Regions from separate parts of the Homo sapiens genome. Here region 2 is linked to region 1. A link means that fine-mapping ties the variant in region 1 to the expression of a gene that starts in the linked region. Tissue or cell type: prefrontal cortex. Region 1 holds a variant in brackets; the other region holds the start of a gene. All regions are shown on one strand. Distances are between the middles of the regions.

Region 1 (5,300 bases):
TTTTAGTGGAAATAATGTCCTCGTGTGTGTGTGTGTGTGTGTGTGTCTGCATGTGCATGTGTGTGTGTGTGTGTCTGTGTCTGTGTGTGTGTGTCTGTGTGTGTGTGTATGTGTGTTTTAAAGTCACAATTCACATGCTCTGGGGAAGCCTCTCAGGCTCAGTCCTGACCACATCCCCTGTGGCAGCAAGAGAGCCCAATGCTTCCTATAGCGTCCAGCATCTGATAGCATGGCTGAGGCCCTAAAGTGCATGCCTAACTCTCCTCTGACATCGGCTGCAGCTTCCCTGCCAGGCAGCCGTGGGGGCTGAACAGAGTCCGGGCCAGCACCGGAGGCTAGACGGGTCTCTGCTTGAAGCAGAGAAGTTTTGTGTTTATCTTGTTTTAGCTAGGTGGGCTTCCAGGTAAATGGCATTTGAAGACAGTTCTTTTATTTAAAATAAAAGAATTTGAAAATCCATAATCTCTCAGGCTGGGCTTTTCCAGATTTGAAGAATTCTGCTAGTTAGAAAGTTCTTTGTTATTCTGATGCAGACGCTGCCCTGCTGCACTTGGCCTCAGCCCCTGCTGCCCACAGGCCACATTTCAGTTGCACGCTAGTCCTTCAGATCTTTAGAGGTGGCTGTGAGGTCCTTCCCAAGACCTTGCCCCACCCCATTTCATAGATACAGTATCTCGTGAGATGGTAGGTTGTTTGCGTTGTTCTAATCTATTGGAAAAAATATTTATCTGCTTGACAGATCCCATCGTGTTCCTGCTTCAGGGGACCTTAGGGATTGTCATCAACCAGGGACTTCGGGGGAAATCTGGAGCATTTTTTACAAGCCTTCCACTTCAATTTCCATCTTTAAGAAGAAACTCAAGGGTCAGAGTCAACAAGATGACCGCAATCCCCTTGTGAGTGACTAAAAACCCCACTGTGCCTAGGACTTGAGGTCCCTCTTTGAGCTCAAGGCTGCCGTGGTCAACCTCTCCTGTGGTTCTTCTCTGACAGACTCTTCCCCTCCTCTCCCTCTGCCTCGGCCTCTTCGGGGAAACCCTCCTCCTACAGACTAGGAAGAGGCACCCTGCTGCCAGGGCAGGCAGAGCCTGGATTCCTCCTGCTTCATCGATTGCACTTAGGAGAGAGACTCAAAGCCCTGGGGCCCGGCCCTCTCTGCATCTCTCTCTGATCTAGCTAGCAGTGGGGGTGTCAGGACAGTGAGGCTGAGATGACAGAGGTGGTCATGGCTGGCACAGGGCTCAGGTACATTCTAGATGGCTGTCAGGTGGTGGGTAGCTTTAGTTACATTGAATTTTTCTTGCTTCTCTATTTTTGTCCACACACAAATCAGTTTCTCCTGATCTTTATGTCTTGGAACAGGGCCAGACAGGGAGAACTCTCAGGTACTCTTGGGAGTTGGTCCCATACAAGTGCGGACTCCTGGACATTAGCGAGGTGTAAAGAGGGCAGTGTCTGTGCTGCCCCGGCAGCTTTGCTCTCCAGATGCTGGACTAGGGTGGGCCTCCTTCAGCCTGGGAGGGTCTGAGAATAAGATCTAGTGACCCCCATTTATATCAAACCTGATACCTTACACATGGGCTTCTTTCTAGATTCTTCTTTCCATAGCTCATGGAGCTGCAGGGAAAGCTTTAAGAGCTTTGGTCATATAAAACATCCATTCAGCTGGGCGCGATGGCTCATGCCTGTAATCCCAGCACTGTGGGAGGCTGAGGCGGGCAGATCACCTGAGGTCAGGAGTTCGAGACCAGCCTGGCCAACATGGTGAAACCCCGTCTCTACTAAAAATATAAAAATTAGTCAGGCGTGGTGGCAGGCGCCTGTAATCCCAGCTACTCAGAAGGCTGAGACAGAAGAACAGCTTGAACCCAGGAGGCTGAGATTGCAGTGAGCCGAGATCGCACCACTGCACTCCAGCCTGGGTGACAAGAGTGAGACTCTGTCTCAAAAAAACAAAACACAAATAAACAAAAAAAATCCATTCATTTACTCATGCAATAAATTCTCCTGCAAGCTTTTATGGGCACTCAGTAAGTACTCAGGATTGGCTTTATCAGCCTTGCCACTGAGCAGCTCATGGTCCTATGGAACCTGAGCCAGGCCTCAGTCTCTCCATGATTGGCTCAGCTAACTCTCAGTTCAGAGTGGAGAGTATCAATCTTGTGTTTTTGCCCTTAGGCAGCACTATATGAGACATGGGGCCTGTGGTCCTTCCTTCTGGTGTCCCCCGTGTTAAAAGATAAAAAACACCCCAAGGGCCGGGCGCGGTGGCTCATGCCTGTAATCCCAGCACTTTGGGAGGCTGAGGCGGGTGGATCACGAGGTCAGGTGATCGAAACCATCCTGGCTAAGATGGTGAAACCCCGTCTCTACTAAAAATACAAAAAATTAGCTGGGTGTGGTGGTGGGCGCCTGTAGTCCCAGCTGCTCGGGAGGCTGAGGCAGGAGAATGGCGTGAACCCGGGAGGCGGAGCTTGCAGTGAGCAGAGATCACGCCACTGCACTCCAGCCTGGGTGACAGTGCAAGACTCTGTCTCAAAAAAAAAAAAAACACTCCAAGGGCCATCCGTGCTCTCTGCCCCTCCTGTGGGGACCAAGTGGGGTTAGGAATGGCTCAGTGGGGAAGGAGAGCACTCTTGTCCCCAGTCCCTTGCCACCCTGTCCCTTAGATAGGGAGGTGGGCTGCAGAGATTGGTGCCAGAAGAGGGTGGGTTTGGGAATTGGAGCTCCTCCAAGGAGCTCCTCCTAAGATTGAGTGCTGCAGCTGTAGTGGCTGCTGGTTGGGAGAGTAAGTGCCATCACTAATTTAAAAGTCCTTGCCATCTGGAATCAGGCTTTGTCAACAGCAGCTGAGAAAAGCAGCCTGTGCCTCTGCTGGCCAGGCCTAGGCCCTCGTCAGAGCGTGCCTCTCCACAAGGCACTTGGGCCTGGGTGATTGTTGCGCCTCTGGCTTTGGCGTTTCCTCTTTGCAGCACTTTGCCTACCTCCCCCAAGCCCTGAGCCAC[T/G]GCCTGCTGGGGCTCCTACTGAGGTTCTGGAAACACCTCTGCACCTGCCGCCCCTGGGAGGAAAGAGGGCCACACAGGAAGTGTCTGCAGGGAGAGGTGGCACTCGGCAGCCTGAGTTCAGGAGAGGTGCTTGGAGCTTCAGGCAGAGGGGCCTTCAGAGGAGGGAAACGGAGCAATGTGTCACAGGCAGGCAGGGGCAGGACTGCCACCCCAGGCCCCGTGGGAGGCCTGCTGAGGGCACAGAGCTGCTCGGTGCAGCCTTCATGCTTTGATCTGGAAAGAGCAGCTGTCCGCAGGCCTCTGTCTCCAAGAGGCCTGTCACACAGGAGGACCGCTGGAAACATACCAACACGTGCAGTCTCCCCTCCAAGCTATTCATGCTGTTTGTGGAATCTCTCTCAAACATAAGTGTCAGGTGTGTGTCGTCCCAACGGGTCCTGTGCTGTGAATAGATCCATGTGCAGCACAAAGGGAATGTGGCACGTGGCCCCAGGAAGAGTTCACCCGGCCAGGGGGCAGTTGTTCAGTTGCCTGGGGCTGACACTGACCACTGGCCTCTGGGGTGTCCTGCAGCCCAAATGCCCACCTTGCCCTCCTCACATCTCAGTCAGGGGAGGCCATGCCCAAGCCAATGTGCTGTCACAGCCTGCAGCGGGGGCAGCACTTCCTCGGAGGGCCTGGGAGGTGCTGGGGATGCCCCAGCGCTTCTCTTCCTGCCTCGCCCTGGCATGGCCCAGCGCCTCTAGGATCAACTTACGATCCGTGGAGCAGCCCCGGGAAACCCAAATCTGGCTCAGGACAGCGTACGGGCAGGAGGGCTGTAAATCATCCCAGGCTAAGCCTCCGTGGGCACTGGCTCCTGCCGCAGCCTGGCTATGGACTCAGTTAGAACCAGGTAGAAAGTCAGCGACACCCCACAGAAGGCCACTGCGGCTAGGTAAACACCTGAGAAAGAAACTGCTCCAGAAGAGATGACGTGGGCTTCCAGGAGCATGGAGGAGGTGGCACTTGAACTTTTAGGAAACTCCTTAGATGAGATAAAGTGGGGGTTGGAGGTGGCGAAAAGAGGGTAACCCTGGGAAAGTCAGTCAGAACCCATGGCAGAAGACTGCAGGAGAGGCAGGGGAGGGGCTTCGGGGACCACTGTGGACAGAGCTCTGAAAGCACCCTGGCCAAAGCCCCTCCTGAGGTGACAGAGCGTGGGAGGAGGCTGCACTGGGCCTGCGTGCCATCCTCACCCCTGTTCCCCGCTGGCGCCAGGCCCTGCCTTCTTGGTACCTGTGCCAACAGGAGAGCCCTCACCAGCCGATCTTGTCACTCTCCGTGGTGACAGTGTCTTGGCCAGCTGTGGCCCCTAGTTTCTAGCAGCGTTTCTCAGTGTCCTTGGCCCTTCTGAGAAGGCAGGCGGGAGGCACACGGTGCCCTGTTCTTCCCCGTTTGTCCAGTTGCTTGCAAAGCAGAGAATGAGTAGGAGTGAACCCGAGTGACTTCACCCGCCCTGTCCCCCACGTCAGGACAGGCTTGAGGCCTCTCTGGGCGTGAGCGAGGAAACCAGGCTGCTCTAACTTCTGAAGAGTGGGCTCTGGCTCAAGACTCCAATCGGCCAGAAGCCCACAGAGATCAAAGCACTAGCAAGTTCAGCTGTCCTGGCCCTCGGGTAGAACCCACGGGCGTGCCTGGGTGCGGCTCCACCCACATGCCCCACTGTCAGCCCAGGCAGGAGCCTTCCTGGCCGGGCTCAGGATCTGCCTGCAGCCCAGCCAGGCCATCACCCAGCCCCGATGCATCCTGGCACTGCACGCTTACTCTTCACAAGCACTTATACGCGGATGGCCTCCGAGACCCTGCCTCCCTGGTCTGCTGAGGTCAGGCCAGGTCTCCCACGGAGCCGGGCAGCTCCACACCCCACCACCTGGCACCGTTAGGTTTCAGATCTCCCGTGTGGTGTTTGATGTCGGCTTTTGTTCCTACCTTGGGAGTTTGGATTGTTTCCTCTGGTGTCTTTGTTTACCTTCCTCACTGTTCTACCTCCTGGCCAGGTCTCAGCTTAGCTTCCCTGGTGTGGGGTGTTTTTCAAGCCTTCCAGCCACAGCTGTCTCCCCTCAGGCTGGACGGCTCCGGGGTGACAGGGCTTCACCCTCTGCCTGCAGACCCCTGGTGGGCACATCTCACAGGCTTCCGTCTTGCTGAGTTGGGTACGGAGGCAGAAGTGGGGTGTGGAGGAAAGTCAGAGGGAAATCTGCTTCAGAAAGGAAGGGTCTTTAGACACAAAGACTGGAGGCCCTTCCCCGCCCG
Region 2 (5,000 bases), 62 kb after region 1:
TAAATCTATATTTATTTATCCGGGTCTACAGTGATAAATAAATACCCTGGACCCGGGAATCCCAGCCTCAGTAAGGACAGGCCCCTCTCTGATGTGAAAATGTTGATAACAGCTTTTACCAGGAGAGTCTCTTGCTGGGGAAATTCTGCAGCGGCCTGAGTCTGCCACAAGTTTGATGGCATTGGTTAAGAAATGTGGATGCCATTAATCGCAGGAGCATCTCAGACATGTTGCAAACAGACCTAGTAGTGCCTCCTCATTCTGTGGCACCCATCTGACACCCTAGACACCTCTCAGTCCCTCCAAGGCATTATCCAGTGCTTCTCCTTCCTAAACAGCTGCATGTTTGAGCTTCCTAAACAGCTCAAAGCACCCCTGGGGTGATGGGTTTTTATCTGGGCCGCTTGATTGGGGTTTCAGACAGGCCTGGCATCCTCTTGGGGGCATGGCTCCTCAGGAGTGACGAATTATCCAGGGTGTTAAGTCACTGATCTAGCTGTGTCAAAAACAAGGGCTAACCAGAGAGGTACAAAGCTGCATTTCTTGGAGGTCAGAGAGATGGCACAGGAGATGTGCCAAAATTTCACGTGAAAAGGAGGGCAACAGCTCCCCAAGGGGGCAACATTGGCACCATGGTGATGTCGCTGGAGGGAGAGGGAGCCCTTGGGGGACTATGTGAAGTAGGGGAGAGTGGGTGACAGGCCATTACCATGATATCTCAATCCTTCCCACACTCCTGTAACGAATGTACAACTGTCCTCCCTGCAAAAGAAACACTGAGGCTGCGAGAGGGGCAAGACTTGCCTGAGCTAACTGGAGCAGAAGTAGCAGAGGCAGGGTTTGAACCCAGCTCTCACTACCTGTCCCTTGGGACAGGGCAACAGCTTTCTCTATGTGGACACACTGGTGATGGATCCCCCGTCCTGCCTGCCTGCCTGCCTATGGTGGCCTATGCTGCCTGCCCCTGGTGAGTCCAGGAGGGGCAATCCAGTGACTGGCAGATCCTTTCTGGGGAGTGTTTCTAGAAGGGACCGTGGGTCTGGACAAGCCATAACAGGAAGTAGCCAAGCTGGGCAAGGGCTTCCCCAGCCCAGGCCTAACTACTGCCCATCGATCCAGGCAGAAGGCGGGGTTAGAGACTGCCCTGGGAGATTGGGGGTCTGGGTCCCCTCTGATGAGAGCTCTGGTCTCTCCCTATAAACACACACTCCTATCACAGACACACACATAACACACATGCACATAAATCCACATCAAGCATGCACACACATCCATCATACACACATACGACACACACATGCACCCCTGCACACACACACTACGCTTACATATACCTTTGTGGGATGTAGAGCCATTCCTCCAGAAGCCCATCCATGTACCCCAGATGAAACCACCCAACACCAATTCTTACCTTGTTACATATGGTGAAATCAAGGCATAGACCGAAGTGCTGTGGTTAAGAGCTGTTACTCTCCGAAGTCAGGCGATCTGGGTACAAATCCTGGCTCTGCCAAACCCCTGCCACGGTGCTTTAGGTAAATGACAGCTCCTTTCTGTGGCTTAGTTTCTCCACCTGTAAAATGAGAATAAGAACAGACTCTGCACTTATGGGGTCAGCCCAGATCTCCTCCTAGGGAGACTGCGAGTGCCTGGGCCTCAGTTTTCTCTTCTGTAAAATGGGGATATTGTGCCCAGTTCGAGCAGAGTGGCTTGAAGAGTCACCTGAGATAGGATGTGAAGTGGCCGCGGTGAGGTGCCCAATACACGTGGCGCGCACTGCTCAGGAAGCTTTCCTTGGAGGGCTGGATCCCGCAAAGGTGTCGAAAAAGGATGAGTCCCGGATATCATTCGCTCAGGTGAGGTGGGTTCGGGTCCCGGCTGCGTCTGGGACCGTGGCCCGGGCCTCAGTTTCCCAGTCTACAGCCCGTGGGAGGACACCTCGGAGCTGGCACCCCGCCCCCAAAAGGGCCCCGCGGCGCAGGGCGTGGGGCTCAGGTGGACACCTGGCGGGCCTCCTGGCGGGGGCGCCCTGGCCGCCCGGGCCCCTCCGGGCTCCTTCCGGGTTGGCAGCGGCGGCGCAGGGGGCGGGGGGCAGCGCAGAGGGGCCGGGCGAGGCCGGGAGCGCGCGCCCCCGCCCCCGCCCGCCCGCCTCCTGCCCGCCCTCCGGCCGCGGAGCTGGAAACCGGGCTCCGCGCGTCCGGGGCGGCTGGCGGCGCGGGCAGGCAGGCGGGGAGGACAGGCTGGGGGCGGCGACCGCGAGGGGCCGCGCGCGGAGGGCGCCTGGTGCAGCATGGGCGGCCCGCGGGCTTGGGCGCTGCTCTGCCTCGGGCTCCTGCTCCCGGGAGGCGGCGCTGCGTGGAGCATCGGGGCAGCTCCGTTCTCCGGACGCAGGTAAGAGCTCCCGGCGCCTTTGCACCCCGCTGGCCGAGGGTCCCGGCGCGCACACGCCCCCACCTCCAGGAAGGGCTGGGATTGGAGGGCGATCCAGTCCCCAGCCCGGGTGAGGGCAGGGACACGGCCATCCCGCGGTCCGGCTGAGGCTCCCGCGAGTGCGGGGTCCCCTACTCCATGTGTCGGAGCTGGCTGCCTCCCCTACTCCCTCCCTTTCAACCCAGGAGCTCGAGAGGAGGGGGAAGGGGCGCAACGAGGGCGAAGCCCTGGCCCTTCTGTTCCCCTGTCCCTAGGGCCCCTCCCCCTGCACTTGGGAAAGGCCTATGACACCCCCTAGCCGACTCTTCTCGGACCCTCTCTCCCCTTTTCCCTGTTCCTGTTTTTTTGCTTTGTTTTGTTTTTTGTTTGTTTGTTTTGTACCCAGGCTATTTATCTCCCTCGGAGGAGGGACTGGGGTGGAGTCTCACAGCCCAGTGGGTCAGTGTCGGAGATACCCCAGGGACCTGGCATTTTGGACAGAGAAAAGAGGGAGCACAGTCTTCCTTCTGCTCTCCTAGCGGCGGGGAACCTCCTCCCTGCTGGCCTTTACGGAGGAGCTCCCAGAACCTGACATGGTGGGGCCCATTATTATATATAGTGTCCTCATCAATCCTTGAAGGACCGAATGAGGTAGGGAAAACTGTCCCCATTCAACGGTTAAGCAAACTGAGACCCTAGGGAATTGGCATCATCTTTTAGCCTCATGGGCTATTCACTGAAGAGCTAGGTTGCAAATCTGCCCTTCTATCCTTGATGACAGTGTTTGAACCTGTCCTGGCCTCTGTCCTGGCTGCAGCCCCAGCGAGGGTCCCCTCCTAAAGGCCAGCCGCCGTTGTCCAAGGCAGACAATGTGGAGTAGCCAGGCCTCTCCAGGCCTTTTCATCCCATTCAAAGGCCTGCGCGGCCCCCACCCCCTACGGCCTCAATTCTTTAATTCTTTTCAGAAATTCTCCTTTCCCAGTGGTCAGGGGCCAGCATGCCCCTGCTGGGCTAGCAAGAGCAGTTGACATGGGCAGGGCTGGAGGACGGAGGTGGTTGAAGCATCAGAGGCCAGAAGAGCAGTTGTCTGAGACAGGGGTGGACGTGTGGCAGATGTTACAGCCACCACCTATTGTGTGCAGACAACAGTTAGCCTGAGTCGGCTCCGTTACCTGCATTCATCAGCTCCAGAATCCTCCCAGCTGCTTGGAGGTATGCTCTTTATGATTCTGTTTCATAGAGGAGGAAGATGAGGCTCAGAGAGGGAACATGACCTGCCCAGAGCATGGAAGTGAGCCGCCAGGATCCCAGATGCTAAGAGGACAGAGACTATGAACTCAGAAATCCCACTGTTAGGCTCAGGATGATGGTGGCGACAGCTTAAGGCCCAGACCGCCCTGCAGCCAGTTCAAGGCAGGGCTTCCCAGCCTGGGCTCCTCACCTCCCAGGGTCTCCTGGGTGGGAACAGGATGATGGCTATAACCAGGTATCTGGTGGTCACTGGGGACTGTCACTCCATGTGTTGACAGAAGCCTATCACAGTAGCCTGAGCATCCCAAAAACCCTGTGGGCAACACTATTGCACCCATTGTACAGATACGGAGGCTGAGGCCTACAGAGGACAAGTGGCACCTCAGTCCAGACCAGTCGATTTCCAAATCCAGTGGCTTTTTCTCTCCAGCAGCCTTGCTGGAAGAGGGAAAGAGGTTGTCGGCTTGGGGGCACCAGGAAAGGTTTGCAGTCATGATTAGGAGTTAGGGGCTCCAGCCTTGGACAGAATGGAGACAGAATTCCTTGCTCTTACAGGCTTGATGTGTGACCTCAAGTGGGTCACTTCCTGGCCATGGGTCTCAGTTTTGCTCTCAGTTTCCTTCTTTCCTCGTGGGAAGGACCAGCACCGGGCCTCACCTGCAGTGGTTCCTGCTATCAATCATGTCACATGGGGGTAGGGACCTGGAGCTTGAGGAGTCTGTGGGCTACCAGAACCTCCACTTGTGGCCCCATCCCCACGTTGCTGGAGACAGCATGGGGGTGTCATGCCCTGTCAGCCTTCCTGCCACCCACACCCCAGCACCCCAGGCACCCCTTGGCAGCCAAGGGACCAGACGCAGAAAAGAGGCTTTGTCCTGGGGAGGGGGTGGCCTGGGAAGGCATCCAGGGGGCCGCCCCTTGCCCCAGGAAGGTGGTGACACTTGGAGACCCCCGGAACCAGGGTGCCCAAGGGCTATGCAGAGCTGCCTTGGCTTGCCCCTGCCCCTGGGGCTGCTTCCTGCCCCGCTGAGGTCCTTCTAAGCCTGGAGTCTGCTTCCTTTAACCACTCATCTCAGCGTTTCAGCTGAGGGTTCAAGCCTTCACCAGCCCAGATCTCTCGCCCCTGCAGCACCGGCTTCCTTCCGGCAAATCCTAGGATCAGGGAGAATGGAGGGCTCTAAAATGGAGGGGATCTGCCCCAGCCTCTGTCTAGGGGGCTGCAATCCCAGCTGATGCCCACAGGGGTGACCTGGGTAGGTGCTTTCTCTTGGAGCCTGTTTCCCCCTCTGTAAAATGCAGAACCTGATAATCCCTATTCCAAGGGGAAGACCTTGTGAAGA

Which allele goes with the higher level. Alleles are on the strand shown, and positions count from the first base shown. SD is a standard deviation of normalised expression in the study named.
In carriers of allele G in region 1, the expression in prefrontal cortex of the gene that starts at base 2,148 in region 2 tends to be higher than with T alone (moderate effect, 0.52 SD a copy in ROSMAP).

Evidence for each region. PIP is the estimated chance that this variant, and not a neighbour inherited with it, causes the effect.
Region 2: EMID1 starts here. The variant in region 1 is fine-mapped to the expression of EMID1 in prefrontal cortex (ROSMAP, PIP 0.92).

Annotation. Positions count from the first base shown.
Region 1 is chr22:29,141,205-29,146,504 of GRCh38, forward strand. KREMEN1 (kringle containing transmembrane protein 1) reads left to right here. Exons shown (of 9, transcript NM_001039570.3): 9 at 740-5,300. The coding sequence ends at 908. Among named protein-coding and RNA genes, the nearest start is that of EMID1, 62 kb to the right of the region's middle. RefSeq lists enhancers at 1-294, 295-794, 4,581-5,281. The variant T/G (reference allele first, on the strand shown) is at 3,006.
Region 2 is chr22:29,203,749-29,208,748 of GRCh38, forward strand. EMID1 (EMI domain containing 1) reads left to right here and starts at 2,148. Exons shown (of 15, transcript NM_133455.4): 1 at 2,148-2,391. The coding sequence starts at 2,291. LOC101929638 (a long non-coding RNA gene) reads right to left here and starts at 2,084. Exons shown (of 5, transcript XR_938134.3): 1 at 1,723-2,084; 2 at 1,412-1,573. RefSeq lists silencers at 2,243-2,332, 2,343-2,502, 2,523-2,582.